Regions from separate parts of the Homo sapiens genome. Here regions 1, 2, 3, 4, 6 and 7 are each reported to be linked to region 5. Evidence: microRNA targets listed by miRTarBase, many of them from high-throughput screens and not tested one by one. Region 5 holds a microRNA gene; each other region holds the end of a gene's coding sequence.
What was found. Region 5 holds the annotated microRNA hsa-miR-661 (UGCCUGGGUCUCUGGCCUGCGCGU, at 3,198-3,221, opposite strand). A microRNA usually pairs through its seed, bases 2 to 8, with sites in the 3' UTR of a target mRNA and lowers its output. Matches are read on the target gene's strand: a 7mer-m8 pairs with bases 2 to 8, a 7mer-A1 pairs with bases 2 to 7 and ends in A, and an 8mer does both.

Region 1 (4,175 bases), not on the chromosome of region 5:
CCTCAAGTGACCCTCCTGTCTCAGCCTCCCAAAGTGCTAGGATTATAGGCGTGAACCACCACGCCCAGCTGGTTCCTGAGGAAGTCAGTGTGGGAATACTTTTTTTTTTTTTATACGGAGTCTCGCTCTGTCACCCAGGCTGGAGTGCAGTGGCACGATCTCGGCTCACTGCAAGCTCCATCTCCCAGGTTCACGCCATTCTCCCGCCTCAACCTCCCGAGTAGCTGGGACTACAGGTACCCACCACCACGCCCAGCTAATTTTGTTTGTGTATTTTTAGTAGAGACGGGATTTCACTGTGTTAGCCAGGATGGTCTGGATCTCCTGACCTTGTGATCTGCCTGGCTCAGCCTCCCAAAGTGCTGGGATTACAGGCATGAGCCACCATGCCCAGCCCACTGTGGGAATACTTGTGTTGAGCACTTGCTGTGTGTTCTGAATAGGACAACCAGGGTCCACCCCTTCTCTCTGGGCTTGTTGAGAAGAGGGGTGCCCAGCCTGACAGTGATGGGACAGGGAGGCTTCAGTGCCATTTGGCCATGTGAGCAGTGTTAGTCTGAGGTACACATCATATTGCCTACAGCCTTCTTTCCTGTGTGTCTGTTAACATTTCCAAACCTACACTCCGTGACATCCAGCCTCACAGCTTACATCACAGCTTAATGTCCTGGCATTTAAGAGACCCAGCGTTCTGTTTTCCCCGCAGTAAGCTGCACATAGTCATAGCGAATTTGGGAAAGATGGAAGGAATCATCCAGCCTCGCGGTTCAGAGCCCAGCTCTGCCACTGTCAGCCATGCAAGCCTCAGTTTTCCCATCTGTAACATGGGGAGAACAGCACTGCTCAGCCCAGAGGGCCACTGCAGAGATTCTGAGAGAGAACGTAGGAAGCGCTGCTCGGCACGACCTGCACACGGGGAGGCCTGGCGCTGCAGCGGGCACCCTCATCACCATAGGGAAGGCCCAGCTGCCTCCGGGGAGGCCCGTTCTCCTAGGCAGGGTGTTGGAAAGGGGTTGGCCTCTCTGCTGCTTTCTGGGAGAGCCAAGGCCACCCCTCTGGGGTACTGACAGGGCATGCCTTGTCTCCAGTGGTTCCCCAGGTGGGGCCCTGCCCTACCCTCTCCTCTGACCTCCACTCACTCATCCCTTTGGCCCACAGGTACATGTGGGGGGCAGCCTGGCCGTCCTTGGGGGGAAGCTGTACGTCTCTGGGGGATACGACAATACATTTGAACTCTCGGACGTGGTAGAGGCCTATGACCCAGAGACTCGCGCGTGGAGCGTGGTGGGGCGGCTCCCAGAACCCACCTTCTGGCATGGCAGTGTCAGCATCTTCCGCCAGTTCATGCCCCAGACCTTCTCGGGTGGGCGTGGCTTCGAGTTGGACAGTGGCAGCGATGACATGGACCCAGGCCGACCCCGGCCGCCGCGGGACCCCGATGAGCTGCACTAGCCCCAGTCTGGCCCGGCACGGGCCTCGGTGCAGGTAACTGGCACCTCTGCGGGGCAGTGCCCCACTCCTTTGTGCACAAGGACACGTTGGGCTCACAGGAGGAGCACAGGCTCTTGGGTGGCGAAGCCAGCCCAGGATCCATTACCTGGAAGGTTTCTGTACCTTGAGAGCCTGAATCAGAGGCCGTCGGGAACGCCCTCCCTGCAGTTGAGGAAGAGCCACTTTCCTGCCAGCACATGTTTCTGGGTCTTGGAGGTCACCCCCACCCCGCGGATCACAGCTCACCCACGCGGCGCACACCCCTCCTGCCGTTGTCATCTGCACCTACTTGTTCCCACCTTGGGAGAGGACGATGACTTGGGAGGGACGCGTGAAGGGAGAAGGGGTCCTCCCATGAGGCTGAGGATGGCCTGAACCTGGAGCAGCGGACCAGGCAGACGGGCTGAAGTGGGGTCCCAAATTCCATGTCCAGAGGTGTGGGGAGCCTGCCTCCCTAGCTCCTGGCCCCTGCCAGGGGCTTACATCAAAACACCTCAGAGGGCTGCCCTCCAGAGGCTGCACCCAGAACAGTGGGACATGAGCAGGGGTGTGGGCTTGGAGGGTGAAGAGGATGTGGTCCTATCAGATGCTGGGCCTCCTCAGCCATAGCCCCCTGCTCCTACCCCCTGACTGGCTCTTGCGTCCTCACCTCTCACCCTCTCCTTCCCGGGAGGCCCTGGGAGGTGATCATTGACACCCAGCCAAGCAGACAGCTGCGGGTGCCCAAGCCCTTGCTGGGCCTGCGCGTGAGGAGTCCCACTGCTTCTAAAGGAAGTCCTGGGCAGGAGGTGGCTTTGGTGGTTGGTTCCAAAGTTGAAAATGCTTGCAGTTTGACCTTAGAAGAAGTGGGAAGAAGAAGGAGCTCTACAGGGTCAGCTTTGTTTGATTTGTCCAGTCTAAGAAGTCCCATTGCCAAAGCTTTCTGCAGGAGGGTGAATGCCGCAGCTTGGCAGCCCCTGGGTTTCTCTTGGAAATGGTCAGTTTCCCCTCAAAGTACCCAAAGTAGCCTTGGCTTGAGTTTTTGTCCTTGCCTCCTTTTTAGAGAAGAGGGCATTTAGACTGCATTTTCCTGGTTAAAGAAGGTTAAAGCAAATGTTTATTGCCTTTTCTAGTGAACTAACTCGTAGAGATGTTCTCAGCAGGAAGACAGTCTTAGCACTGTCACTTAGCAGATTGCACTTAAGTCCCTTGTGCTGGCCAGATGGCGTGGCTGGTTGCCTTAATATGTCCCAGGACCCCTGACAGGGCTGCCTGGCCTCTCCCTCGTGCTCCTCAAGAGCCCAGTCCATACACTGTGGATGTCATTGCTGTCGGGTTAGGAAGTCTTGTCCTAGAACGCCCTGGCTGGTATGACCACAGTTCATGGCGGCTCTTCTCGCTTGGGTCATGGTCATCTTCCAGCACCTGCTGTGCTGGGAAGGCCGAGGATGGGGGCCCAGCACTGTCCAGGCCTGCTGGGGCCTGGCTGGGAGTCCTGTGGGCAGCATGGAACATGCAGCTGGGCTTCCTGTGACCAGGCACCCTCTGGCACTGTTGCTTGCCCTGTGCCCTGGACCTTTTCCTGCCCTTCTCCTTCCTCTGCTCCCTTGGGGCTACCCCTTGGCCCCTCCTGGTCTGTGCAAACTCCCTCAGGGAGCCCCCCTGCCCTGTAGCTCTCGCTTAACTTCCTAGGGGCTGCTGAGCCCACCCAGAGGTTGTTGGAGTTCAGCGGGGCAGCTTGTCTCCCTTGTCAGCAGGGGCGTAAGGGCTGGGTTTGGCCATACAAGGTTGGCTACGCCCTCAATCCCTGACCGTTCCAGGCACTGAGCTGGGCACCCACGGAAGGACATGCTGTCCAGACTGTGATGACTGCCAGCACAGGGCATCTCGGGCTTGGCTGGTCTGCGAGGCCTTGCCCCTGTGGAACTCTGGGTTCCTGTTTTCTCAGTCTTTTTTGCGGCTTTGCTGTGGTTGGCAGCTGCCGTACTCCAGGCTTGTGTCGGCCACTCAGATGAGGGCTGTGGTGCGAGCCAGTGCAGGAGAGCTGCGCTTGGGATTGTGCCCTCTCCTGTGTCTGTCCTCCGGACCTACCCAGGTCTCCACCATCAGGACCCTGTCTTTGGGTTTAGAAGACCAAGTATGGGGAAAACCAGGCACCAGCCTCTGCAGCAATGGGTCCCTCTAGCCTGTGGACACCAGCTGGGGGATCCAGGGTCAGGCCCCCTCCTCTCCCCAGTTTCCCTCTGCTGTGGGTTCTGGGCTGTCATGTCTCCACCACTTAAGGATGTCTTTACACTGACTTCAGGATAGATGCTGGGATGCCTGGGCATGGCCACATGTTACATGTACAGAACTTTGTCTACAGCACAAATTAAGTTATATAAACACAGTGACTGGTATTTAATGCTGATCTACTATAAGGTATTCTATATTTATATGACTTCAGAGACGCGTATGTAATAAAGGACGCCCTCCCTCCAGTGTCCACATCCAGTTCACCCCAGAGGGTCGGGCAGGTTGACATATTTATTTTTGTCTATTCTGTAGGCTTCCATGTCCAGAATCCTGCTTAAGGTTTTAGGGTACCTTCAGTACTTTTTGCAATAAAAGTATTTCCTATCCATTTGGAGTCATTGCCTTTGTCCTCCTGCTACTGTCTTCTGGGACTCTTGGGCTGAGGACAGATGTCAGGGGAACAGGCAGCA
Region 2 (4,276 bases), not on the chromosome of region 5:
TCCTTTTGGCTGAGGAATCTCTCCATGGCTGCAGGCAGGGCCATTGTTGCCATTCTACAGATAGGGAAAGTGCGGCTGGGGGAGCTCTGACAGCCTGTCCCTCCCCGGGGCCTTCTGTGATGCTGCTGAGGGCCTCTGTTGTGCTGGGGTCTGGGTTGGAGCTGGGGGTAATGGAGATGAACCTGCCAGGCACAGTGGGTGCCCCAGGGCCCCCACCCCCGCAGCCTATGCCATCCCTCCATAGAGGGGCCTCAGGTTGCTGTCTCTCTCCTTCCCACTATCGTCCGCACAGCACTGCCATCTCCCCACACCCTCCAGGAAGTTCAGGTCGCCATCATAAACAACTCTATGTGCAACCACCTCTTCCTCAAGTACAGTTTCCGCAAGGACATCTTTGGAGACATGGTTTGTGCTGGCAATGCCCAAGGCGGGAAGGATGCCTGCTTCGTGAGTGTCCTTGCCACCACTCCCAGCCCAGGAAAGCATCCTGTGTCCCTGTGCCTTATTTGACCCTCATGCCAACCCCGGGAGGTGGAGACTGTTGCCCCACTCTGCAGATGCAGAAACGGAGGCTTGGCTGCTGCCAGGGGGAGGAGGAGGATGTGCACCCAGTCTACCCAGCCCCATAGCCCTTCCCACTCTCAGCCCCTCCCCTGCCCCACTCACTCTGCCCCAGGCTGACCTCAGCCCCGCTGCTCCCCAGGGTGACTCAGGTGGACCCTTGGCCTGTAACAAGAATGGACTGTGGTATCAGATTGGAGTCGTGAGCTGGGGAGTGGGCTGTGGTCGGCCCAATCGGCCCGGTGTCTACACCAATATCAGCCACCACTTTGAGTGGATCCAGAAGCTGATGGCCCAGAGTGGCATGTCCCAGCCAGACCCCTCCTGGCCGCTACTCTTTTTCCCTCTTCTCTGGGCTCTCCCACTCCTGGGGCCGGTCTGAGCCTACCTGAGCCCATGCAGCCTGGGGCCACTGCCAAGTCAGGCCCTGGTTCTCTTCTGTCTTGTTTGGTAATAAACACATTCCAGTTGATGCCTTGCAGGGCATTCTTCAAAAGCAGTGGCTTCATGGACAGCTCATTCTCTCTTGTGCAGACAGCCTGTCTGTGCCCCTGGCTCACACCCACATCTGTTCTGCACCATAGAACCATCTGGTTATTTCGATCAGAAAGAGAATTGTGTGTTGCCCAGGCTGGTCTTGAACGCCTAGGGTGGTCTCGATCCTCCCGCCTCACCCTCCTGAGTAGCTGAAATTATAGACGCACATCATGCTCAGCAATGGAACAGGAGTAGTTCCAGGGTGCCAGGAGCTGGGAAGCCTGGATTGGGGGTGTGTGCATTGGAGGAAACAATCCTGACATCCCTCACCCCACAAGGATCCGGCACAGAAACGCCAGACATCCTGATCTTACTATGGTTCCCCCAAGGCTGACCTAGGACCAGGACATAGGTGCAGGTAGTTTATCTGGGAGGGGATTGCAGGAAATGGGGAAACCGAGGCAGGGAAGGAAGGAACACCAATGAGCTTACACAAACATAGAGGGTACCATTCTAGGCAACTGGGGTGCAATCCTGTGGGGGCCTCAGCGTTGGCCCACTGAGGACAAGGACACCACGGTGGGCGTTTCTCTCTTGACCACTCCCCCCACCATGTTGAGAGTAGTTCTGGGGCACGGGATGCCTCAGAGCTGGGGCAGCCCCGAGGTGAGGCTCTGAGCACCCAGAAAGTAGGCAATAATGGTTCCCCTTGTGGGACTCCAGCTGGCTCCAAGTTCGAAAATCATGGTCCTCCCTTAGCGATGTTTTTATTTTTTTATTTTTATTTTTGCAGTTTATTGCATAAAGGAATTACACTAGTTCAAGTTAAAAGCAGACCTCAAATGGTTAAATTAGACAAACTGTGAGGTTTTAAAACTTGTAACAAGGGAAAGAAGGGAAATTCTACTCATTACAGGGAAATCCTCACTTAAGTTTCAGTGAGCCACAAGTAGTTAAAACCCTTGAACCATCAGCAGATCGTCCTTAGCCAGTCCCACCTCTACAAGGAACTGGCATATGTTCTTGCGCTGGTCACCCTGTAGCTGAATGACTTCTCCATATTCTGGATGCTCAATTACCGTCCCATTGCAGGGAAATTTCCTCTTAAATGCCTTCACTAGTTGCTTTTTATTGTAATCCTTAGTGATCGCTTAGACAGTGCTAAGGGTTTTCCTGTCATTTCTCTGTTAAATCCTTGCATGGATGTATTCCTCAGTGCCTGCAGGGAGCAGGTCATCACTCTTACTTAAATCAGCAAAGGGGTGGAAGAGTGGAGATTCTGGACAGTGGACATACGAGATGACTCCTTTTCCTCAGTGGAAACGGGCAAAACTCGGGCCAAGGCGCCAACAGCCACAGATTTCCAGCCAGAAAAACAACACCCCAGAGATCCTGTAACATTACGAAGGCTTTGGAATGTCATATTTAAATTGTTTATAGATCAGTTTTATCATCTACCTGTAGACTATATTGGACCCTAAATTCTAAGTTCCTCCAATCCAGTTTTCTCCTACGGAATTATTAAAACTGGAAGCTGCTCTTTCATAAATGCCCTGCGAGCTAAAACAAAACAACTTAACATAAATATCAAGGGACAAGTATTGTGCCTGATGTGTGGACCGCACAGAGTTCACCAACCATCCAAGGCCATAACCAGAGACATTTTAACTGCAAAATTGCCGGCTTCATACTGCAGCTTTTCCCAAGACCATCAAAACGAGATTCCGTATCATGGTGGTCCACTTACCTCTCTTAATGCGCACCTTTCTCCCTTGACAGGATAATGTGTAATTAAAATTTTACAGCCAGTAACTGCTTTGGGTAACTTAACAGAACTGGACCTAAAAACATGCTTCACTCCACCTAGTGGGTAACTTTGGCGATATCGCTAACACAACTTGTTCAAATTGTACTAGTGGTCCCTTTTATAGAGTTGGCCCTGTTTTCTGCTTTATTTCAACCCAGTCATGAAATGCTACTTAATGGCTACAATAGCTTTCAGCCAGTTTGCCTGTCATCCTTTTTTTTTTTTTTTTTTTTTTTTGAGACAGAGTCTCACTCTGTCACCCAGGCTGGAGTGCAATGGCACGATCTCAGCTCACTGCAACCTCCGCCTCCCTGGTTCAAGCAATTATCCTGCCTCAGCCTCCTGAGTAGCTGGGAGTGCCATCATGCCCAGCTACTTTTGTAATTTTTAGTAGAGACGGGGTTTCACTATGTTGGCCAGGCTGGTCTCAAACTCCTGACCTCTCGATCCACCCGCCTCGGCCTCCCAAAGTGCTAGGATTACAGGCGTGAACCACCATACCTGGCCTAGTTTTTTGTTTGCTTTTCGTTTGTTTGTTTGTTTGCTTTTGTTTTTTTAAGAGATAGGGTCTCGCTTTGGCACCTAGACTGGAGCCAGTGCAGTGACGTGATCCTAGCTCACTGCAACTTTGAAGTCCTGGGCTCCTTCCACCTCAGTCTTCTGAGTAGCTGGGTCTACAGGCCCACACTACCACCACCAGCTAAGTTGTTTAAAGTTATTTTTTGTAGAGACAAGTTCTCACTTTGTTGTCCAGGCTGGTCTCACGTGGGCAGTTAGCCCCAGACCTCCTGCCAGATGCCCCAGCCCAGCCAGGTGGTCCGGAATCCATAAATATTTTTTAAACCTGTGAATATACACTTCGAGATTTGTGATTTCGTTGTATGCAAATTGTGCTTCAAACTGGGAAAAGCCCAACCCCCCAAAAGTCTAGTTAACGATACGCATGTGGAAGTCCCTGAGGGTAAGTGAACTGAGGTCTGCACCTGACGTCTGAGGAAAGAAGATGAACCAATGAGTGGACGGAGGGTCCGGGACATGGACAAATGCAGTGACACCCACACAGGAGAATGCTGAGGACTGGAGAGGCAGGGATTGCGTGGGTGTCACTGTCACCTTTTACTCTCCAGTATGTCTGAATTTGGGTGGTAAATGTAGGGGAAATGTCTGTTGACTTTGTCCTTGGAGGACAGCTCCCCAGGGCCCATCCTCAGCTTCTGCCATCTTGGTCCATCTGGATCGTCCATCCTCGAGTCTGGAAAATTCCAGGCCCTCCACATGGCTTGCTGTGGGGGCTGCAGTCAGGAACTGGCCTCCCGGACCAGCGACGCCCCCCACAGGGCTACTCCCTCTGCAGCCTCCCAGGGAGGACTCAACCACTCTTGGGAAGGAGATGAGCAACTGACTCAAACCAGTCTGAGGCTGTTCCAGTGC
Region 3 (4,083 bases), not on the chromosome of region 5:
TGTTCCGTTGGCCTTCAGTCATCAAAACCATTTCTATAAATGTTGAATGGACTCCTTTGGCTGACATTTTTCCATGACTACATGGTCACTTAATATGAATTTATATAATGGGTTGAACAGATGTGAATTAGACATTGGGCTTTATGTCCCTTATTTTAATGTCCCTATTTATTTCTCTAGCTAATCTTTGAAAAGGTAGTAGCCTCTGGGTTAGTAACTACATAGCCCATCTCTGGACAGATGACGGGCTTCTGGTACTGTAGCAAATTTGCGTTCTGCCCTCTGCTCTGGCCCTGAGAGATCTGTTCTTAGGAATTTTTCTTAGTAAGGGAGAAGTTATCAGATTAAGCCTTTGTAGGAGTAGGGCATGTTTGCAGGAGTTTAAGGGTCCTTGGGGCAGTTTTGCAACTGAATCGTGTCCATTGTTACCCTAATGTTCTTTTGAATCTGGTGGTGTAGGTAGCATTAAACCAAAGCTGAAATTCTCAAGTGGCCCAGCATTATTTGTTGCTTACAGATTGTCAAACAGCTGCTCAGGAGCCACTGTGGTAGTTTAGTGACTAGACTCATGCCACTTGTTACTTCTCACATAAGCTACCTGAGGGCTGGTCAGGAAGTTTAGATGAGAGGACATAGCATTGATCACATGAGTTGCCTGCCTTCCTCTCATTTGAGTCAGAACTTAGTGTTTTGGCCTGGAGGTTCACAATTCTATCATTTGACTGGACTGTGGAATTCAAACTGTCAGTGTTTCTGAAACAATTTTATTTCAGTGAACTCTTGGTGTGACTTGCTAACAAGGCAGTTCTCTCCCTCCGATAGAACCCTTTTAGTGGATCTAAACTGAAGATTCAGCTGTGTTACTTTCACGGAACCAAATTATAAGCGATTCTGTTGAATGAACCAAGTGCTTCTGTTGTGACCTTCAGGACAAGGGAAATTGATCCTTTATTCATGATCTATTACTTACAGACTTTTAGAAATTTAATCTGTGAAAGGGTATTACTGTCACTGTCTTTGAAGGCATTATTACCAATTATAAAGCTTATTTTAAGAACAAGTTTTAACTATTTTTCTTACTGTTTGATTTGTTCAGACTAAGATTGTTTGGGCATCTTAACTTTGTTCTGGATTTATGTGTTGCCCTATCATGAAGATCCCAGAGGTGTAAATGAGTCCAGAGAAACATCCTGTCACCCATGGTCAGTGACACAACTCAGGAGTTTCTGGCTGAGATAAGACCCTTGGCCTTTTTAAGGCTAAACTGAGAGAGGGACCAAGTGGGGTGTGGTGGGGTAGGGAGAGAGGGAGACAGAGATGGAGGGAAGGATATTGATTGTGGGTTTTATGAACTTGCATACTAGGTTTATCTTAGTAAAAATGTTGATAAGTACAACTGAGGTCATATTGTCTTCTGTTTTTCCTGTGGTGGAATTAACCATGCTTTTGTTCTTCATCTCAATTGCAGGTGTGTTCATCCTCGAGGTGGTGTGATTCAGAGTGTTTCTTCATGGAAGCATGGCTCGGGCACGCAGTATGTTAGCACCAGGCAAACACAGTCATGGACTGCTGTGACTCCCCAGCAGACTTGGGCTTCACCAGCAGAAGTTGTTGACCTTACCTTGGATGAGGATAGCAGGCGTAAATACCTACTGTAATACAATGTCACTGTGTTTCCTCTGCACTGTTCCCTTCCACTTCCTCATCCTCTTTGTGACATGGAAGTTCATTGTCATAGCTTCAGCTTCAGAAGCTGTTTGTGGCATTTGTAGGATTCAAACTCATGGAAAATTCCCTCCTCTTCCCCCCTTTTTTTAATTAAAAGAAGTCACTTAGGAAAATAACATCACAGAGAAAAGAATTTCTTCTTTCCCTCAGTAGGAATATAGAATGATGAATTTTATTAGACAACTTTATTTTACTTGGTGACTTTTAATCTTAGGAAACTCTGCCTTCCTTTTAGAATAATATTTTAATTGCCAGGCAAAATGGGTTTCAGTTTTTGAATCTTGTATTTATTTTTCTGTATAATGAAATTAATATCTAGACTTGACCACTATCTGCCCACCCCATTGGCACTCCCATCTTAGGGCATTCGCACACATATCAGTCAGGTCCTTATTGGCACCTAGTAGGGCATGTGCATTTAAAAACTTGTCCTTAAAAATAGAAGACAGAAGTATTAAAATTATATTTTCTTTTATTTTAAGTCTTCTGCCTTCTTTCTTGAGTTTGCTCCTGTTGACTTCCCACAGCACAGATAATTGACATGTCCCTTTGTGTTTATAAATACTACTAAGGTGACCTAGTTGTTCTCCTTGTTGCAATAATTAATAACTCTTTGCAAAATGTCTCCTTTGAGACAGAGGCATTTCAGATAGATACCCACCATGAGGTGTTCTGGGCATCTGAAGGTATTAAGAGTTCAGTGGGAAAAATCTCTCTCCCTCGCCTTTTTTTCTGGTTTAGTCAAATAACGGGTGAACATAGAAACCTGTTGGGAAGAATATGAAAAGTTATGTGGCCTCTGAGGCTACAGGCACTTGCAAATCCGAGAGGAAAGTGCCGTCTTTCATAGCTGGTCTCTGTATAAAGAGTATGTAGCAACAACTGTTTAACATCCGAGATGAAGTGGACCTGATGCTGTATTTGGGTATTTTTCTCCTCTACCTTCTAAAAAAAAATACCATAAGAAGAATCAGAATGTACCATAAGAAATCAGATGCAAAGCACGTTAATGTCATTGGTAAGTTTTACAGAGTCTAAAAGGATTAGCAAAGGGTAGCAGGAGCTTCAGGGAATTCAGGAAATGCCAGCATTGGAATTTTGTGGCATTAGTTACTACCTTCTTTCTTATAATATGTTGTAGTTACTAGTGAATTCTTTTAAAAGCAATACCTAGAGTTAGAACACTATGTACTCTGCACAGGGGGAGTGAAGTAATATTGGCTTAGAAGACTTCACCTTTTGTTTTTCATGGTTTTTGTTTGTTTTGTTTTTGTTTTTGTTTCCATTGTTACCGTTGCTATGGCCCTTTGCCTGTCTCTCCAAATCCCCTGGTGGCTCTTCTTATCATTAAGAGTATGAGAATTACCATTTTCAGTTTTCATTCAGCAAACAAATTTACCAAGTGCCTGCTCTGCATAAGGCACTGTGAGGGGTGGGTGCTCTGGGGGCTGCTGAGATGAATGACACACACCGCACATACACATGCATCAGTGTCTGCCTGCCTCCACCTGCCCAGCCTGTTCTTCTTCTTCTTCTTCATCTTCTTCTTTTTTTTTTTTTTTTGTAAAGACAAGTTTATTCCTTTACGCTTCTTGTTGCATTAGTTCTCCTGTATGTTCCTTCTTCCACAGGAATGTATTTGTGCATATGTTCTTTGATCTTCTCTGATAGCATCTCATTTGATCTGGCCTCTGTCCTTCATCAGCTTTTATTTTTTTTATTTTTATTTTCTGCTTTTGTTAGATAAGGCTTTTAAGATCATGAACCTCCAGCTTTAGCAACTCATATATCAGTCTCTCACATGGCCACAATTCTAGACAAAAACCAAAGACCCAGAGGCCAGAGCAAAGTAGGACCTTCTGAAGATTCACTACTGGTGTATCCTTGGACCTTCACATTTTACTTTAGGATTAATTTATTGAATTTTACTGTTACACATAGTTTTTGACTTGAATTAAAATACTAGACAAAGCAGAAATGTACAATTTCTGGTCTGTGTTTTCCAGGAAATTCATAGAGAAGAGAATAGAGTGGATGATGTGACTTGAAGTTTTTGCAGCTTATTTTTTCCCCCACTGTCAGGGCAGAGGCCCATTTTAATGAATGTTTTTGCATGACCTGTTCTTATGTTAACCACATATTTTTTTTCCCAATTCCACACAGCAGGTGATTTCCCGTGTGACATATTTTCTTCATAGTCCCTAATATAGTCATCCTCTACAGAGTTGGCGTGCTGTGTGCACTGTGGATTAGGAACAGAGTGGAGCTGTAACCAGTCTCTTCTCTGGCCCTTTGCCTTTATGTCAGCTTGCACTTTTGCCTCACTTATTCCTAGTCCAGCTCCCAACTGCCTGA
Region 4 (4,088 bases), not on the chromosome of region 5:
CTTTCCTCTGGAAGGGAGTCAGTTTCCTGGGGGTGGGGGCAGTCACATCACAGCTCCTGAGCCCCTAACTCCCTGGCTCAAGGTGCCCCTCGCTCCCCCAGGTTTCGCTCTGGATTCCGGCTTGCCTTCCGCTGCTGCCCATGGGTCACACCCACCAAGGAAGATAAGCTCGAGCTGACTCCCACGACCTCCCTCTCCACGAGAGTCAACAGGTGTCACACTAAGGAGACTTTGTTCATGGCTGGGGACACAGCCCCCTCCGAGGCTACCAGTGGGGAGGCGGGGCGTCCCCAGGATGGATCAGGGCTATGGTTTGGGTATGGTTTGCTTGCCCCCACCAAAACTCATGTTGAAATTTGATCCCAATGTGGCAGTGTTGGGAGGTAGGGGTTAGTGGGAGGTGTTTGGGTATTGGGGATGGATCCCTTATGAATAGATTAATGCCTTCCAGTTGAAGTGAATCATCACTCTTGTGGGAATGGACTAGTTCCCAAAATAACAAGTTGTTAGAAAGAGTGTGGTGTCCTCAGTTTCCCTGTCTTGCTTCCTCTCTCACCATGTGATCTCTTTGCACACAACACTTCCCTTCCACTTTCCACCATGACAAGAAGCAGCCTGAGGCCTTCACCAGATGCAGCTGCCCAATCTTGGATATTCCAGCCACCAGAATCATGAGCCAAATAAACCTCTTTTCTTTATAAATTACCTAGTCTCAGGTATTCCATGAAAGCAACACAAATGGACTGAGATAGGTGCCTATTGAACCCTGAAGCCTTGTGCCTGGCTGCAGAATGAGGTGTAGCACCCTTTGAGAAGTAGCCAATCGAGAAGACCACATCTGAAAGTTCAGCTCATGCCCCATCCTTCAGTATACCAATACAAAGACAACATGGGGCCAGAACTCCAGAAAGGATGCTGACTTTAAGAGGACTCAGCCACCCATCTCAGAGAGCACTTCAGAGGATCCAGTAAGGGTCAGAAAAGACAGTGTAAGCTGATATTTATCTAATTTAAGAGATGCAAGCTCAAATGCCTTCCTGGGGCATACAAGAATATGTATAAAAGAAAAACTGCAAATGTGATGATAAAAGGCAACTGACTTCCACCCTCAGTTTGAGCTAATAGGGAATGGTGGGGGCCATGGCAACCTGGAGAGGACAGGCATTCAAAGGGGACAAGAACTACTCAGCTCTGGACAAACGTTGCCACATGATAATGGGAGCCCACTGTTGCTAGATCTTCTAAATCTTTCAAGAGAAGCTATAAATCCACATTTGTATGTGAGTCTTCCAGATTTGTTGAATTTGACCCAAATTTTCATAAACTTTGCATAAGTTAAACAAAACGTATCTGTGGGCAATGCAACCATGACCCTGATTCGCCATCAGGCTGTGGATACAAAGGAGGAAACTTCTTATTTCACAAAGCCCAGTGACTGAGTCAGCTGAGGGCTTCTCTGTCTCAGTATTTAAGAAGTCAGATACAGCCCACGTAGATGGTGATTAAGAGCCAAAAAAATCAGCTGTGTTTCCTCAGGCAAGTCACTTTGACCTCTGCCCAGTATCAAAACTACTTCACAGGGATGCTGTGAGGAACAATGGGAGTAATGCCTATAAACTAGCAGGCCAGACCAGATTAAGTGCCCAATACATGGTAGCCAGGACTTTCTTTTTTTTTTTTTTTTTTTTTATGAGACAGGGTCTCACCTCACTCTGAGACCCAGGCAGGAGTGCAGTGGCACCATCATGATTCAGTGCAGCCTCAACCTCCTGGGCTCAGGGGATCCTCCTGCCTCAGTCTCCCCTGTAGCTGGGACCACAGATACATACCACCACACCCAGCTAGTTTTTAAGTTTTTTGTAGATATGGGGTCTTGCTATGTTGCCCAGGCTGGTCTTGAACTCCTGGGCTCAACCATTCCTCCTGCCTGTCTCCTGAAGTGGTGGGATTACAGATGTGAGCCACCACACCTGGCTGTTAGCCATGACTTTTAACTATTTCACACAAAAGCCACCTACAAAGCAGCAGCACAGCTCCCACTCCCACTTCTGCAGCAAGAAGCTAGAGGGCAGAAAGCAGCAACTGTCCCAACTCCCAGAAAGCTCCCGGTCTGGCCCAGCCCATCCCAGGGGCACACCTCCTGCTTGCCAACTCAGCCTCCACGCCCTGGTTCCCCTGCAGAAGAGCCATGTAACATTGTCAATGCACACTGGAAGGTGTAATGTTATCTGTGTTCTCCAAAAAATCACTGCTCCGTAGACACCAGCACCATGCCCCTAATAAAGGGACTCTGATCTCACCAAACCAGGTGGTCTGGCAATCGGTCTCGCAGGAAGCCACTTAGAGCCGCAGCTGTGGCTTGGGACATCACAAGGTGCTTGGGTGCAGAGTGACATGGAACCCACCAAGGCTGGGGGAGAATCCAAAATGGTAGCCTGGGGATAGACCAGGAATCTCTTGAGGTGGGGGTGGGAAGGGAGAGTAAAAGGTCAGACAAGGGTTAATTTCCTAGGGATGAGGTCAATCTAAGATCCAGAAGGGGTGGGCCGGGAGCGATGGCTCACGCCTATAATCCCAGCACTATGGGAGGCTGAGGGGGGCAGATTGCTTGAGCTCAGGAGTTGGAGACCAGCCCTGGCAACACAGTGAGACCCTGTCTACAGAAAATAAAAATAAAAAATAAAGAAAAAAGATCCGGGAGCGGGAGCGTGCAGCCAGCCTGGGCTGCTTCAAGATTTCATCTGTGTTTGGGTAGAGAGGGAGGGGAGGGGTGGGGCAGAGCACATTTCATCCTTTGTCTTGGGGTTGGCAGAGAGGAAGATGAAGGGCAGGATCCGGGTGGGGATGGCAGAGAGGGGACCAGTGTTGCAGTCCTCTCACTGAACCCAAGCAGCCTGGAAGCCAAGTGGCCTTGTTCTATAATCCCAGCACTTTAGGAGGCCAAGGCAGGCAGATCACTTGAGGTCAGGAGTTGGAGACCAGCCTGGCCAACATGGTGAAACCCCTTCTCTACTAAAAATACAAAAATTAGCTGGGTGTGGGGATGCACGCCTGTAGTCTCAACTACTCAGGAGGCTGAGGCAGGAGAATCACTTGAACTCGGGAGGCAGAGGTTGCACTGAGCTGAGATTGTGCCACTGCACTCCAGCCTGGGTGACAGGGCAAGACTCCATCTCAAAAAAAAAAACTCCTCCGCCCAGAAGGCCACAAAACTCCCCAGTGTTTGGTCTTTGCCACATCCCAAGAAACTGCACCCCCCTCTGCCTGTCCCCCCGTCCCCAGCCATTAAGCATCACTCGGGTCTTTGAATTGGTACAAAGTTTACTAGGTCATACGACACGGCTCACAAAGCGGTGGGAAATTCCAGTGATGGCATTGTTTGTTGGTTGGTTCCTTTTATCCAAATGGAGACAAGACACATTTCCGCAGGACTGTCCACCTCCCCCCACGAGACAAACAGAATGCAAGACTGTCACACGCGGCTAGGACTGGTTCCACGGACACACGATTTTGTGGCATTGACACACCACGATGCGATGCCAGGCCACAGTGGGTGCCAGGAGGGGAGGAAGCAGCTAATGCTATGCCCACACTCGCCTTCAGGCAGTGCCCCCGGGAGGGAGGCCCGGCAGTGTCTGCTGGTGATAATACATTTCACACAGGGAGGGGGAACCCCAAGGATGGGCTTTGGAGGCCCAGAAGGCCTGTCAGGTGGTGTGATTTTCCATCTCCAGCCAATAAATAACTCTGTTGGATGAATGCATACATTAGAAATGGATGCCACTACACTTCACACGTGGGGGACCAGGTCAAAATCAAACCATGCAAAGTGGCAGGGCAAGTGAGGAGGGATCCGGGTGAGAGATATTATCAACAGCACACGCTCTATTCTGTACCCTACAATATATACCATTAGTTGGATTTTGCTTTCCTCCCCGCGCCGGCAGGCCCTGGCGCCAGCGTCTCCCAGCGCAACTCGCTGGGAGGGTAGGGGGTCGCCGCTTGAAGAGAGAAGTGCTGGAGAGGCAGTAGGCTGGGGATCCCGGACTCTTAGCTGCTTGCCTCTGTGCGTAACCGCACGCCCACGG
Region 5 (4,276 bases):
CTGGGAAGGGAATCCCACTGGCCCAGGACTGCAGCAAGTCCACAGAAGGCCTGGAGCCCCGCCTTCAGCACCTCCTCCCTCCCCCGTGTCCTGGAAACCCAGGCCAAAGCCCAGGCTGACGTGGAACAGCCGGGGGTGGGCCAGCCCCGCCCCCTCCAGCCCCGCCCCCTCCAGCCCCTTCTCTAGAGACAAACAAATGGGGGTAGGGGAACATCACCCCGCCTTCCTCCCCAGGTGTTTCCGGAGCTCGGGGGCAAGGCTGCACCGGGCCAAGGCGCCACCCCCATCCCAGCCCAGGCGGCGGTTCCCAGCAGAGACCCAGCCCCACTAGGTGAGAGCGATGGTGGCCCCTTCTGTGCCACCGGCCACGCCACTGCACCCACCTACGCAGCACAGCTGCTGGTAGAGGTAGCCCCTGCGGGCCGGCTCGCAGCCCCCGTCCAGCCAGCACGGCCGCTCCAGCAAGACCTCCCTCGGCGAGGCAAAGGCGCCCCCCGCCCCCGACATGCCGGCCACGGCCGGAGCCCTGGTTCGGCCCACGGACAGTGCGGGGAGCTGGACCGCGGCGGCGCCTCTGCTTCCAGCCCACGCTGCGAGGCTGCCGGCTTCGCTCTCCACCTCTTCCACCTCCCCCCCACAATCCGCCCACTGCGGGAGCGAGGCCCAGACCCAAAGAACCTGCCCCTGGCGCGCAGCCCCGCCCAGCGCAGCCAGGAAGCCGCGCCCCAACCCACGGGCCGGGCTGGGAGGCTGCCCTGGGACTGAAGCGGCATGGGAGGGGGCCTCCCAGCAGGATGTGCGGTGGGGACTGCAGGGCCCAGGGAGGAAGGCAGGGCATGGGGCCAGGTGGTGGGCAGACAACGCTGGAGGCAGAACCGAGGAGCTGAGCCGCGTCTGGCACCACCAGGGAGTAGAGGCATCCTGTGAGCCAGGACCGTGGCCGAAGGGGGCAATTGTGGGCTGAGGTGGGGAGGCAGGGACAGTGTCTGGTCCCCAGCCAAAAACATGGATGGGGAAGAAGCCCTCAGCCCAAGTCCCATCCTGGCAGCTGAGTCCCCGGCAGCTCCGGGCGTCCCCAGCGCCACGCCTAGAAGCCCCATCTTGACTCATCTCAAGTCCGGGGATCCAGCAGAGGAGCTGAGCCAGGCAGCGCCCTCACTGCAGGAGAGGTCTGGCCAGCCAGGTCCCCGATAGGCAGTCCCTCTGGCCAGAAGCCCATAATTGAGGCTGCCCAATCCCCAGGGCCCCGCCCCATCCTGTGCTGGGCACGGTTGCCACCTGGGACCACAGCCCAGGAGCTGGTGACTTTGAGCAGGGAGGGCAGGGCACAGCCTGGCTGCCCCCGCCCCCTGTGCGGCCCGAGGGCATGAGGGCACCTGCCTCACCTGCGTGTGGCTCCACCCCCTGCTGTGTGTGCAGGGAGCCACCTCCACCTCAGTGCTGGCCGGACAGGCACCTGCCCACTTGTCCCTGCCACGGCGGCTGCCACAGGCCTCCCTTCGTGTGGGGGACGCTCCTGCCCTGCCGGCCTCCGCTTCCACCCACCTGTCCCGCACAGGCTGCAGGCTGAGGGCCACTGCAGAGCCCGCCCCGCCCTGGGACTGCAGCAGGGTCAGGGTCTACACTGCAGGGTGGGGTGGAGGGGCAACACTGCTTTCACTGACATTCAGCTTGGAAACAGGAAGGGGAGGGCGCAGGGAATGAAGGGGCGGGAGGCAGGCGGCCCCTCTGCCCCGCCTCGAGTCCCTGGCAGCCACCAGCGGGGCTTACCTTGCTCGTCCTGCGCCCACCGACGTCCCCTGCGCCAGTGCCACACAGCGGCCAGGGTGACAACGTGACCCACAACCACCAGGGAGGGAAACAGGCTGCCCGAGGGCTCCATAGCCGCCACGCGGAGCCGCCAGGGCTGCCCTTCCTGCGCTGGGAACCGGCTGCTCCAGGCTAGACAGCCCCCTCCCTGCGTGCAGGGCGAGCGAGGGGGAGCGCCGGGACCGGAGCCTGCCCTGCCCGCAGGACCGCCCCATACGCGGCGGCAGCCCCACAACAGCTCCCGCCCGCCTCCTCTCCTCCTCCCTCCGCGGGTCCGGCCCTCGGCGCCTCCCCACCCTCGCTCCCCACCCGGCCGGCTCAGCTGTCCCTGCGCAGGGCTACTGACGCTCAAGGTTAGTTGGCCTTAACCCCTGCGTCCCCGCGGCCACACCCGCCGGGAGGAGGGGCCAGCCGCACGCCTGGCCAAGCCGCAGCCCCCCAGCACTGCCCGCGGCCTCGGCACACACCCTCCCTCCCTCCCAGCCTCCCCCTGCTGTCCCCACCAGAAGAGGGGCCCGAGCAGCCCACTCTGCCTCCAAGGCTGCCCTCTGGGGACAGCTGGCAGGCATGGAGGGATGCCAGAGCCCCCACCTCAAGCCTGCAGCTGAACCCACTGCACTCCTTCAACTTCGCCCTCCTCACCAGCCCCAACACCCCAAAAGTGAGACTGCAGACCAGGGCTGAGGGGGTCTGGGTGAGGGCACATGAGGCAGGCTGTGTGCAGGGCGAGGGACAGCGCCCCTGGCCTCCAGCCTCAGCCCCAGCCCTCTGGCCCCTGTCCCCAGCAAGGGGCCAGGATTTCACAAGGCTTTCAAGGGCTGCCCACCTACCGGGCACGATCTTCATCGGGGACGGTGGCAGGAGCCCACGGGGCAGACGGAGCGGGCCAGGGGTGTGGGAGGTCACAGGCCCCTCGGAGGAGGCACAAGCCACTGGCGGCAGCGTCGGGTGGGAGGAGGGCACGGCCGTGCTGCTGTCAGCAGCAGCTTGTGGGGGAGGGGAGCAGTGGGCAGGGGCCCAGGGGATATAAATATCCGAGGAGGGCGCGCAAGGACCGTCACCACCCAGACTTGGAACATGACGCACGGCGCCAGGGCACCCAGGCCCCGCTGCAGTCAGGTCTGGCTGGACGGTGCCACCCGACACCTCGGTCCCCCAGCTCCCACAGGGGGTTCTAATATAATAGAGCAGGGCGCGGGAGGTGCGGGCTCACGTCCCTGCAGGAGGCGGTGCAGTCCCCACCCACCTGCCCTGCCAAGCCAGGGGGTGCTCTTGGAAAGGCCACAGGGGCCAAGAGAAGAGGCCGCCCATTCTCCCAGAGGGCCCTGCGCAGGTCACTCAACACAGCACCTGGCCCCACCGGTGGCCGGGACAGCCACCCCAAAGTCACGCGCAGGCCAGAGACCCAGGCAGCCCGAAACCAGGGCTCAGGCCTGCGCCTGCCCCACAGCACAGCCTCTCCTGGGGTCCCAGGGATCTGGGATGGAGACGCCTCTCCTGGGCCACGGCAGGAGACTGGCCTGGCTCCACCCAGGAGTCCCGAAGCCCTGCTCTGTGGAAGGCCTGGGTCAGAGAGCCGGGCCACAGGCAGGCCCACAGCATATCCTATGCAGATCAGATCCCAATGCAGCCGGGGAAACAGGACGTGGGACACGCACAGTCCTGCTCCTCTTCCTGGGACCCCTGTCTGCTGGGCGCACCCCTCAGGCCCAGGAGAATGCACGTTGACGGTATACCCCATTCCACAGCGTCGCTCCTGGCACCACATGGAACCCTCAGCAAACCCCATGAAGTCCTATACCATGAAGGCCTCATACAGACCAGGAGCCTGAGGCGCCGCCTGCTGTCCCGCACGCTGCCATCTGAGCCCAGGTGGCCTCCAGTGTAGTTACCTCAGCCCACAGCAAGGCACAGTGAACCAGCCTGGCCCCGGGCCACTGGGCAGGCCACCCAGGTCCATGCTGGGAAGCCCGCGGACAACAAGAGGGCCGGGCCCACCCCAGCCTCCTGCTCTCCAGCCCCACACCTCAAAAACGTGCGGCCGAGGGAAATGCCTGCAGTGGCCCACTCTGGGCGGCCAGGGGTCGGGCGGGCCCAGGCAGCCCTGAGGGTCAGGGATACCCAGGCATGCCAGAAAGGGCCCAACTCCCAGCTGAGCCCAGGACAGCATCTGGCCAGCAGTGGGCAGGGGCCGACAGGCCGGACGTTTCAGCCCACTCCCTGCCACGTGCTGGGGAAGCCTCAGAGGAGCCTGACTCAATGGCCTGGGTGAGAACCAGCTCCTGGCGGGAGGAGTGCCCCAGGCTGGCAGCGGGCAGTTCTTCTACCACTCCACGGAGGTCCGGACAGGCCTGTGCTTCCGGGACACACATCACACACACCCCTGGGGCAGCTCCGAGAGGGGGCTGTGCCTATCCCTGCATCCCAGGTCTGACGGCACAGAACGGTGGACAACGGGAAGAGACAG
Region 6 (4,276 bases), not on the chromosome of region 5:
ATTATGCACAATACTTATAGGAAAATATAACTAATTGGGATATAACACTTTTGTCCTTTCAGTAGCAATAGCATTTAGCTGTACTATTTGTTCATGATAGTGGTGAAGAAGCCAGACATGGTTCCTCCCCACTCAAGTCTACATCTAATGATATACATTAAAGATTAGCAAACAGTACAAGACAAGAATGGATCTGTTTGTGACAGTTTGTAATTAAAAGGAATATCAAGGATATTACTGGGAAAATCATTAAACATATTTTGTATTTCAAAAGATTTCTACTTTTAGCAGACAACTGAAAAAGTTATTTTCTAATTCTTGAAATGTACACTACATCCTCTCGCAATTATATTAAAAATGACAAAGGTTTGGATTGTTCTGAATTGCTTTGTTAGCTTTCAGAGCCTTCACAAATTGAAATACCATTTAAAATGTACTTTATCAAATTTATTGTTACTGATGACTGCACACTGAGCATATATTTTTTCCCATACCTTATTAAATATAGCAGGAAATCTTTGAAAAATTAAAAAGATAAAAAGATACAAGCTTGTAGAATCTTCATGTTTCAGAGTTTTTTCTTTACATGCAGTTTAAAGGATTGTGTTCATGTTAATTGAATAATCTCTATTTAATTCCACCCTTTTGAGGTTTTATACTTTTGCATTACAGTTGATGGAAATACCTGGGCACAAGTAATTGCCTTATACCCAACTTTAGTAGAATGCATCACCTGTTCTTCTTCAGAAGTCTGTTCTGCACTTAAAGAGGCACTAGTTCCTTTTAAGGATTTCATGCAGCCACCAGCATCCAGAGTTCAAAATGGAGAATCTTGACCGGCTACAATATATTTGAAAGCAGGAAGATAGTCTAAAAAATGTTTGCTCCTAATTGAGTCTTCTGTGAGAAGGACATTTCTTACTGCAGATAATTCTTGGCAGCTGTTGTTGGCCTCCTTTAAATTCTACTTACCTGAGTTCAGTAATTCATATTACAGGCTTGCACATCAACAAAGGCTCCTGAATGAACAGCAGTGTAAGGCTTTAATAAATTAAACTGATGGGAGGGATAATTAACACTACAGTATACATGCTACCATATCTCCAGTTGGTGATTTAAAGTGAGCTTATGTACAGTTTGTGGTGTATGTGTTAATGATGTACTTTTTAAAAAGAAAGAAGAGATATTTCAATTCAGTCAGATTTATTAGTCTGGTGTTTTTGCACCCTTTTTCAAGTACAAAATCGTACTAGAATTTTATGCAAGATGGTACTGTAACATTCCATATTATCTATAACCAGCCTTTGTTAACAAAGGGAACTGATATACTTGTGTGTATAATAAATGGTACAGTTCTGTATAAAATAGTGCATTTATTTAAATTTTAAAAGTATTGATAATGTTAAATGCTTAAAGCTCTATTTATTATTAATACAAAATTGTTTGCTTACATTTTTACTTATAATTTGCCTTCATATGTGGCGGATAAGCTCACCATATGATCATGCAGTTAGCTTCATGCTTATTTTAAATGTATTATTAGTGACCATTAAACATCTGACCAGTAAGGTCATGTGAACACAGCAGCAAATAGTTTATGATTTGCTGATTTTGGAGCTTTGAAATATAGGTTCTTAATACATTGATACATATTGTAGCACTATGACTTCATCATACCTCATTTCTTTAAACAGCTCTCCAAGCTTTCACTGAAGTCTGTCTGTTTTTTATATTGGCTGTCTGGATTTTAAAGACTTTTCATATTTTATATTTCTACTGATTTTGTTTCCCCTAACAACATTTGTCACTGTCTTTGAATTATGACCCAGGCAAGATGATTTCAGATTTTCTAAAATCTTGCCTGTGAGGTTTTGTTCATATCAGTGCTTCATTTTGTAATGTCTTCTCAAGAAAAATACCTATGTTAACTCACAAGTATAAAATATGTGTGTATTATAAAACAATGAAAAGTGTATTTTTGGAGATAGTCAAGCATTTAGAAGTGCAGTGAACTTGCTGTCACGGAGTAAAATGCTAATTATGTTTCACTTTCCTAGCCTAGTGAAAAAGAAAAGTGCTCTTGAGTACAATACCTTAATTATTTCTTAAAATACTGACTTTGACCTAGCTCACTGTATTTTTTATTTAATGGATTATGGATTACAGTATTTTTCTTCTGAGTTAAATTTTCATAATTTATGTGAAGACACAAAGATGTTTAAAACAATGATTATTCATAAGAAATCATGATGGTCTCAGTATTATTTTAGTGTATTGGAAGGTCTTTGATCTTAATAGAATTTATAAATTTCAGCTTCTCCAGAATAATCATAAAACTGCAAAAAGATATTATAATTGAGTCATGATTGAGATACAGTTTTGAGGCTATTATAATTGTATAATTATTTAATTTGCATTATCTGTAAAATGTAGTAAGGTCTTTGAGGGGATATTTTTTATTTACATGAATTACTGAATTTCTATTTTATTATTTCACCTAAAATTAAGGTAAAATATGGCATTTCATAAGTTCTGCTTTCAGCATTTTCCTTAAAGTTGTAAAAAATCAAGCTATGTACTTATTTTCTATATTTGGGTGTGTTAAATTGAGGATTAGAAAAATCCACATAATCACTGATAAAGCATTGAAACAGAATAACCCAAGGGTAGTGTACCGATTCAGTAACATGTTAAAAATATTGCTATGCATTTATTCAAAGGAAAATGGTCTGTTCTTGAGAAATAAAAGATCAGTTGCAATTAGGATAATTAAATAGTTAAATATGAGTCAAGTGTATGCAATATACATTTATATGAACCAAAGCTTGCTTTATCAGGACCATGCCCTACAGTTCAAAACATAAACATAGTGAATGTGTTAATATCATATAATAAGGTAATAAATGCCAGTCTTAGTGTGAAGCAAGTGGGTGGCCCCCTTGGTAGTATAATTGGACAGGATTTTCCTCCAGAATATTTCCTGTCACCCTCCAAGAGTCACTACAGTAATTGATTGCTGGCATGGAACACATTGCCCTTGTCTTGTTAGTATGAATTGGGTTCTCCAGTGACTAGAAGAACTGGGGTGTGTGAAAGTATTCGATGCCAGGAGATTCAAAAAGGAAGCTCTCAAAGATAAGATCATTTTATGGCACAATTGAGTCTATAACCAGCCCTTTAAGCAGTAGTAAAAATGTCCTTTGTCATACTTACTAGAAATACTATGAGTTTTTTTTTTTTTTTTCATTTGAGACGGAGTCTCGCTCTGTCACCCAGGCTGGAATGCAGTGGCACGATCTTGGCTCACTGCAACCTCTGCTTCCCGGGTTCAAGCAGTTTCCTGCTTCAGACTTCCAAGTAGCTGGGATTACAGACATGCCACCATGCCAGGCTAATTTTTTTAATATTTTTAGTAGAGATGGGGTTTCACCATTTTGGCCATTCTAGTCTTGAACTCCTGACCTCAGGTGATCTGCCCGCCTTGGCCTCCCAAAGTGCTGACATTACAGGCCTGAGCCACTGCGCCCAGCCAATACCATGAGTTTTAAGCCTCACATCGTCACTTGCTGTCACTGCCAGTGCCTGTTTTATTCATATTGCTGGACAACAGACATATGCCACCAATTGTATGATTAATAAAGTCTTTTTCTGGCCATTTTGTCCATTATAAAGGAAATAAACTAATTGTTAACTTGCATAGATTACTTCTTAGTTTCCTATGCTACCACCACTGCCAAGGGAGAAAAAAATACATCATTTTGTAATGTCTTTAGTATTTCTTTATAACTAGTGTTAAGGTTTTGTTAATTTTATTGTATACATTTGTAACATTTATTAGGAGCCTTTTAGGTTCCAAAACAAACAAAAGGCATAAAAAAGTCTAGCTTAGAACCACTTTTCACTTGCTTTCATTTTTAATTTTATTCACTTAACAGCTAACATCTTTCTTGTTTCTTGTTTTTTCCATTATATGGTTATCGATTCAACTCTTGCTATATTCCTTAAATTTGTATGTATCATCAGAAGAAAGAGATGAACAATTTAGTGTAGATATTTTATTCTGGAGAATAATATTCAATTAAATTATTTCTACAGCAGGCCAGTAACAACTAGATTATTTGTCCTTTCTCAGTATAATTTTAAAGAGCATTTTGTTTTATTGTCACAATTTGGTACCACTAGTCCCAGGTAACCATTGGGCCAAAGGATCAGTTGAGAAACAGTTAAGGATGAATTAGCATAAGTTATGGAACAGTGTTAGAAAACAACTCAAAAG
Region 7 (4,276 bases), not on the chromosome of region 5:
GGGCTTTAAAGTTGTTGACAAAGTATTTCTTAAATAAATACATCTGATTTAGAAATACCTAAACATGGACAAAATACTTCTAAATCTGACATGCAACTGCATGTGGCTTTTTAAAGTGGTTTCTTAACAATGCTAATGTGACTTAAGGATTTGTAGTTCTATTAAAAACGACTTCTAAAAGTATCTTAGGGTAGCTTGAAGGGTTTGCGTTATTATTTTAGGTCTCAGCAGAGGTATGCTTATGGCAAGAGAAAAATCTTAGGTCTAAATAGAACCCTAAACTTTCTTGGCTGTGACCAACTTTTCTGAAGTACACCATCAGAGTTTTCACTGACTATCTATCTTTGCAGAGATGAATGAATGTACTGGGCAATTCCTCTGCCCAAGGAAACCCAGCAGGGCCTGGGTCTGCTGTACCACTGACCAACTGCTGGGGAGGCTAGGGGACCTGTCAGTACATGCTGTAAGGTTGGGAGTTCAGTCTAGCAACCAAGAAGGGGTTGCCTGGTGTTCTACAATGCCTATAGTGTTTTCAAAATGCCTGGGAAAAAATTCTCAAAAGAAGTGGCAGAATGGTCTTCTCACGGTATAAAACTCCGCAGGATTTTTTTTTTTTTTTTTTTTTTTTTTTTTTTTAAGGAAAAAAGTATACCTTTTAAGTTCAGCTTCCTTAACTACTGGCAACAGAGAGAAAACTCATAATTTGTTTTAAAAAGCCCAGTTACAGCTGCCCTGCCTACCCATGGACCATTGACTTCCCAGCACACTCTTAAGAATAATATACAGAGAGGCACCATTTTGCTCTGGGTCTTATGGAATCCTAGAGCTCTTGAATACGTTTTGGTGGTCCTACGGAGAGCTGTAACTAGCAGTGGAGTTGTTGCTTATTCCAGCTGTGTGCTTTTCACTTTCCGATCTTTGGACCCAGAGAATCATTTGCCATGGAATCATCTGGCTAGTAAGACACTCTTATATGGATGCAATACAAAAAGTGGTAAATTAAAGCAAAGCAATCATGTGGTCCTTACTCTAAAAGAGACAATATGTAAATGTACTATTATAATAAGGTAGCTCTGCAGATGTAATAAGCTACTCATAAATTATTTGGGTTTAAGAAAACTTAAGACTATGTTAAACTGGACAACATCTCCATCTTGAGTGAGAGTAATTAGTAACTAGGATGACCACACATTCTCCTAACACGGGCAACAGTCTAGTCTAATTGTTATTGCATTTCTGACCTGATTCTTTTAAAGGGGCATATATTCCCAATATATACCATTTAGAATGTATGTATGTTTCTTGGATGACTTAATCTGAAGCCATATAAGTCCAAAGTAGTGAGACAGACAGTATATCCTTGACTAAGTTATCAGGCTGTGTTCTCTGCTTATAAAATAATTTTTTAAAAAGCCTCACTTCACAGTCCTGTTCCAAAAATCTTTCTGTGAAAAAATTGAGGCCTATGTAACACCATGAATATAATCATGTTAGAACATAATCAGTTCTTGAATATTTATTTCCTTTAAGAGAATATCAAACTGATGTCACCAAATCTAAACCCACTTGAAGACCAATAGCTATTACAGTTGTACTACAGAATAGGTCAAAGTCACCGTTAGAAATATTACACTTTATTGAATTCTGGAGCAGCTAATCTACCCTCCCCTATTGACCAATGACAAGAATGGAAGAAAATATACAATGGTTAAAGAAAGAGTCTATAACCACTGTTTGTTTAAAATGTTGAAACAACTTTCACTGTACTGGTGAAACAGTTTTAATACCCTAACATACACAGTAATGATTCATTCTTGTTTAAAACAAGAGGTGATTTCGACTTGGGATTGGGATTTTTATTTTTTGAGATGGAGTTTTGTTCTTGTTGCCCAGGCTGGAGTGCAATGGCACAATCCTGGCTCACTGCAACCTCCGCCTCCTGGGTTCAAGCAATTCTCCTGCCTCAGCCTCCTGAGTAGATGATGGGATTACAGGCATGCACCACCACGCCCAGGTAATTTTGTATTTTTAGTAGAGATGGGGTTTCTCCATGTTGGTAAGGCTGGTCTCGAACTCCCGACCTCAGGTGATCCGCCTGTCTCGGCCTCCCAAAGTGCTGGGATTACAGGCGTGAGCCGCCGTGCCTGGCCTTGACTTGAGATTCTGAAGTGAATTTATTCACACTGATTGTGCCCTCTACTTTAGTAAGGTTCTGGCTTACAGAGCCCTCTTCCCATCCTCTGATGTTCAATTTTAATATACAGCAATCAACTCTTAGAGGACAAAGAAATCTGGAATTGGGTAGCATGAGCCACAGCTATATAGCCCACACTAATGCATGTTCTGTAGTATAAGAAGGCAGTTCTTCCCTTTCTTTTCTGGGGGCTTGTTCCTTTGTCCACTTGCAGCTAAATTCTTTCTATAGATTTATCACAGATAAGAAGGAGGTTGTTTTTGGATAACAAATAAGCATTTGTGCTATTAAACAAACAAAAGGTAATAAGGATACTGTCTTTTCCCTCAAAATAGAATCCTGCCCTAAAGCAACGCAAGTAGAGCATACTTCTGTGCAAAGCCAGTGATAGAGAAGCAGCCTTGCCAGAGTCACTGAGGATGAATTAAAGGCTTATAAAAGAAAACTTGACCTTAACAGAGACTACATTTGATCATGGAAATAATACATTTCTCCACTGATATACAATACCATGTAATGCACTGGAAAAGTTGGACCTTGGAGTAATAGCACAATTTGTAACATTACAGATCACCTCTTCCCACTCTTTGTTCCACTCTGAGACTCTTTCCTTTTCCTCGTGTATCCAGATACACTGACATACGGATGATTTTAAAAGTGTCACAAGCCACAGTGGAGCCATATACATGCAGTTCAGCCTGATTTTACCCTTATTTTCTTCTAATACAGACTCCATTACAATTTTGGACCATCTGCAGAGAGTACAGATACACAAAACCAAAACAAGTATCTATGATAATAAAATCTTCAGAAACTTTTCAGACGTACCTTTCATGGAGCCCCCTCCCTCCCCCGAGTAGAACCCTAACAGGGACCTCGTTTGTTCCTGTGAGTCCTGCCAGGACTTGTTTAATGGGTGCTTGGGGTTTTGGTTTTCCTCCTTATTCTTCCTCCTCCTCCTCCTCTTCATCATCATCTTCGTCATGGCAGTGTGTAATTTCCTGGGGGGCCAGTGGGAAGAGGTTGGGAGGTTTAATCTCACTAATTGACCGTGTCAGCTGGTGCCGCTTGTAGTCAGTGTCTTTGAAATCCACTGATGTGCGGTTCCGGGTGGCAAGAGGAGACTCCATCTCATTGATATCTACGTGTGTGTGCTCCACCGTTGATTCATGAGGCATCTAGACAGAAAAAAGCTAGAGGCTCAGAAAGCAGGCAGAGCAAAGTAGCTACTCCCCAAATCCTAACCCCTCTCCTCTGTTAGGTGGCCATGCAATTACATCTATAATGGACCACAGGACAAGTCAATATAGACTTATCTTCATAGAACTACTTATAGTTGCCTGTCTTCCTCTCTCCCTGCCCCTCAAAATGGTGCCCATATTGTCTACTGCAGCTGGAAATTGGAAAAGATGGAGAGGGGAGTTTACTTTCTATTTTACAGCAAAAACAAGATAGTCCTGAAACAGATCAGAATAAAGGAATGTAAAAACCACATTTTCTTTTTCTTGAGATGGTCTCTCGCTGTCACCCAGGCTGGAGTACAGTGGAGCAATCACAGCCCACTGCAGCCTCGACTTCCTGGGCTCAATCAATCCTCCCACCTCAGCCTCTAAAGTTCTGGGGTTACAGGCATGAGCCACCATGCCTGGCCCACATACAGCTTTTAATAGAGTAGACTTCAGAGAGTAAAGTTACACTCTTAACTTCCAATGTTGGTTCTACTTTCTCAAAGACCCCTTCTTATGCAACCATATAACCTGCCCCTGGGCTCTGTACATCAGAAAGAAATGTTCAAACTATCTCCTGTGCCATCTCACAAAGGTGGTTGCTGACCCTGGGCTTAGAGTACATCTTGGCTGTCCATTACAGCTTTAACTCACCAAGACATGGGCAGCCCTGAAGAGGTAGCTGAAAGGGTAATACAGCAGGTTGATGAAAGATGCTGCATAGAGGTCAGCATAACGCATCACTTGACTGGCAAAAAGGGTCTGCCGGGAGCCACTGCGAAACAGGCTTCCCATCATCCCATAGCACATGTCCATGTCATGAGTTACTTTCTAAAACAAAGAACAAGATTGATTC

Region 1: the mRNA of KLHL21 is a reported target of hsa-miR-661. Seed matches in the 3' UTR shown: 7mer-A1 at 1,882-1,888, 7mer-A1 at 3,005-3,011, 7mer-A1 at 3,287-3,293 and 7mer-A1 at 3,620-3,626.
Region 2: the mRNA of PRSS21 is a reported target of hsa-miR-661. The part of its 3' UTR that is shown has no 7-base or 8-base seed match.
Region 3: miRTarBase lists ARK2N as a target of hsa-miR-661. Seed matches in the 3' UTR shown: 7mer-A1 at 1,980-1,986.
Region 4: miRTarBase lists TACR2 as a target of hsa-miR-661. The part of its 3' UTR that is shown has no 7-base or 8-base seed match.
Region 6: miRTarBase lists MON2 as a target of hsa-miR-661. Seed matches in the 3' UTR shown: 8mer at 1,825-1,832 and 7mer-m8 at 3,272-3,278.
Region 7: miRTarBase lists NT5C2 as a target of hsa-miR-661. Seed matches in the 3' UTR shown: 7mer-A1 at 2,142-2,148.

What each region holds. Positions count from the first base shown.
Region 1 is chr1:6,590,642-6,594,816 of GRCh38, reverse strand. It overlaps KLHL21 (kelch like family member 21), which reads left to right. Exons shown (of 4, transcript NM_014851.4): 4 at 1,159-4,093. The coding sequence ends at 1,452. Among named protein-coding and RNA genes, the nearest start is that of KLHL21, 10 kb to the left of the region's middle.
Region 2 is chr16:2,820,663-2,824,938 of GRCh38, forward strand. PRSS21 (serine protease 21) reads left to right here. Exons shown (of 6, transcript NM_006799.4): 5 at 293-447; 6 at 704-1,057. The coding sequence ends at 943. It also overlaps the pseudogene EIF1P4. Among named protein-coding and RNA genes, the nearest start is that of PRSS21, 5.6 kb to the left of the region's middle. RefSeq lists an enhancer at 1-371.
Region 3 is chr18:46,261,461-46,265,543 of GRCh38, forward strand. ARK2N (arkadia (RNF111) N-terminal like PKA signaling regulator 2N) reads left to right here. Exons shown (of 5, transcript NM_145055.5): 5 at 1,469-4,083. The coding sequence ends at 1,658. Among named protein-coding and RNA genes, the nearest start is that of ARK2C, 71 kb to the right of the region's middle. RefSeq lists an enhancer at 104-605.
Region 4 is chr10:69,401,098-69,405,185 of GRCh38, reverse strand. TACR2 (tachykinin receptor 2) reads left to right here. Exons shown (of 5, transcript NM_001057.3): 5 at 102-1,283. The coding sequence ends at 360. It overlaps HK1 (hexokinase 1), which reads right to left. Exons shown (of 18, transcript NM_000188.3): 18 at 3,304-4,088. The coding sequence ends at 4,051. Among named protein-coding and RNA genes, the nearest start is that of TACR2, 14 kb to the left of the region's middle.
Region 5 is chr8:143,942,009-143,946,284 of GRCh38, forward strand. MIR661 (microRNA 661) reads right to left here and starts at 3,271; the gene lies at 3,183-3,271. It overlaps LOC124902040 (a long non-coding RNA gene), which reads left to right and starts at 1,856. Exons shown (of 2, transcript XR_007061144.1): 1 at 1,856-2,162; 2 at 3,558-4,276. It also overlaps a transcript of PLEC not described here. RefSeq lists silencers at 63-152, 373-832, 1,903-2,172 and an enhancer at 1,053-1,302.
Region 6 is chr12:62,591,914-62,596,189 of GRCh38, forward strand. It overlaps MON2 (MON2 regulator of endosome-to-Golgi trafficking), which reads left to right. Exons shown (of 35, transcript NM_015026.3): 35 at 673-4,276. The coding sequence ends at 836. Among named protein-coding and RNA genes, the nearest start is that of MIRLET7IHG, 8.7 kb to the right of the region's middle.
Region 7 is chr10:103,086,537-103,090,812 of GRCh38, forward strand. NT5C2 (5'-nucleotidase, cytosolic II) reads right to left here. Exons shown (of 19, transcript NM_001351169.2): 18 at 4,075-4,251; 19 at 1,502-3,372. The coding sequence ends at 3,136. CNNM2 (cyclin and CBS domain divalent metal cation transport mediator 2) reads left to right here. Exons shown (of 8, transcript NM_017649.5): 8 at 1-3,686. Among named protein-coding and RNA genes, the nearest start is that of NT5C2, 100 kb to the right of the region's middle.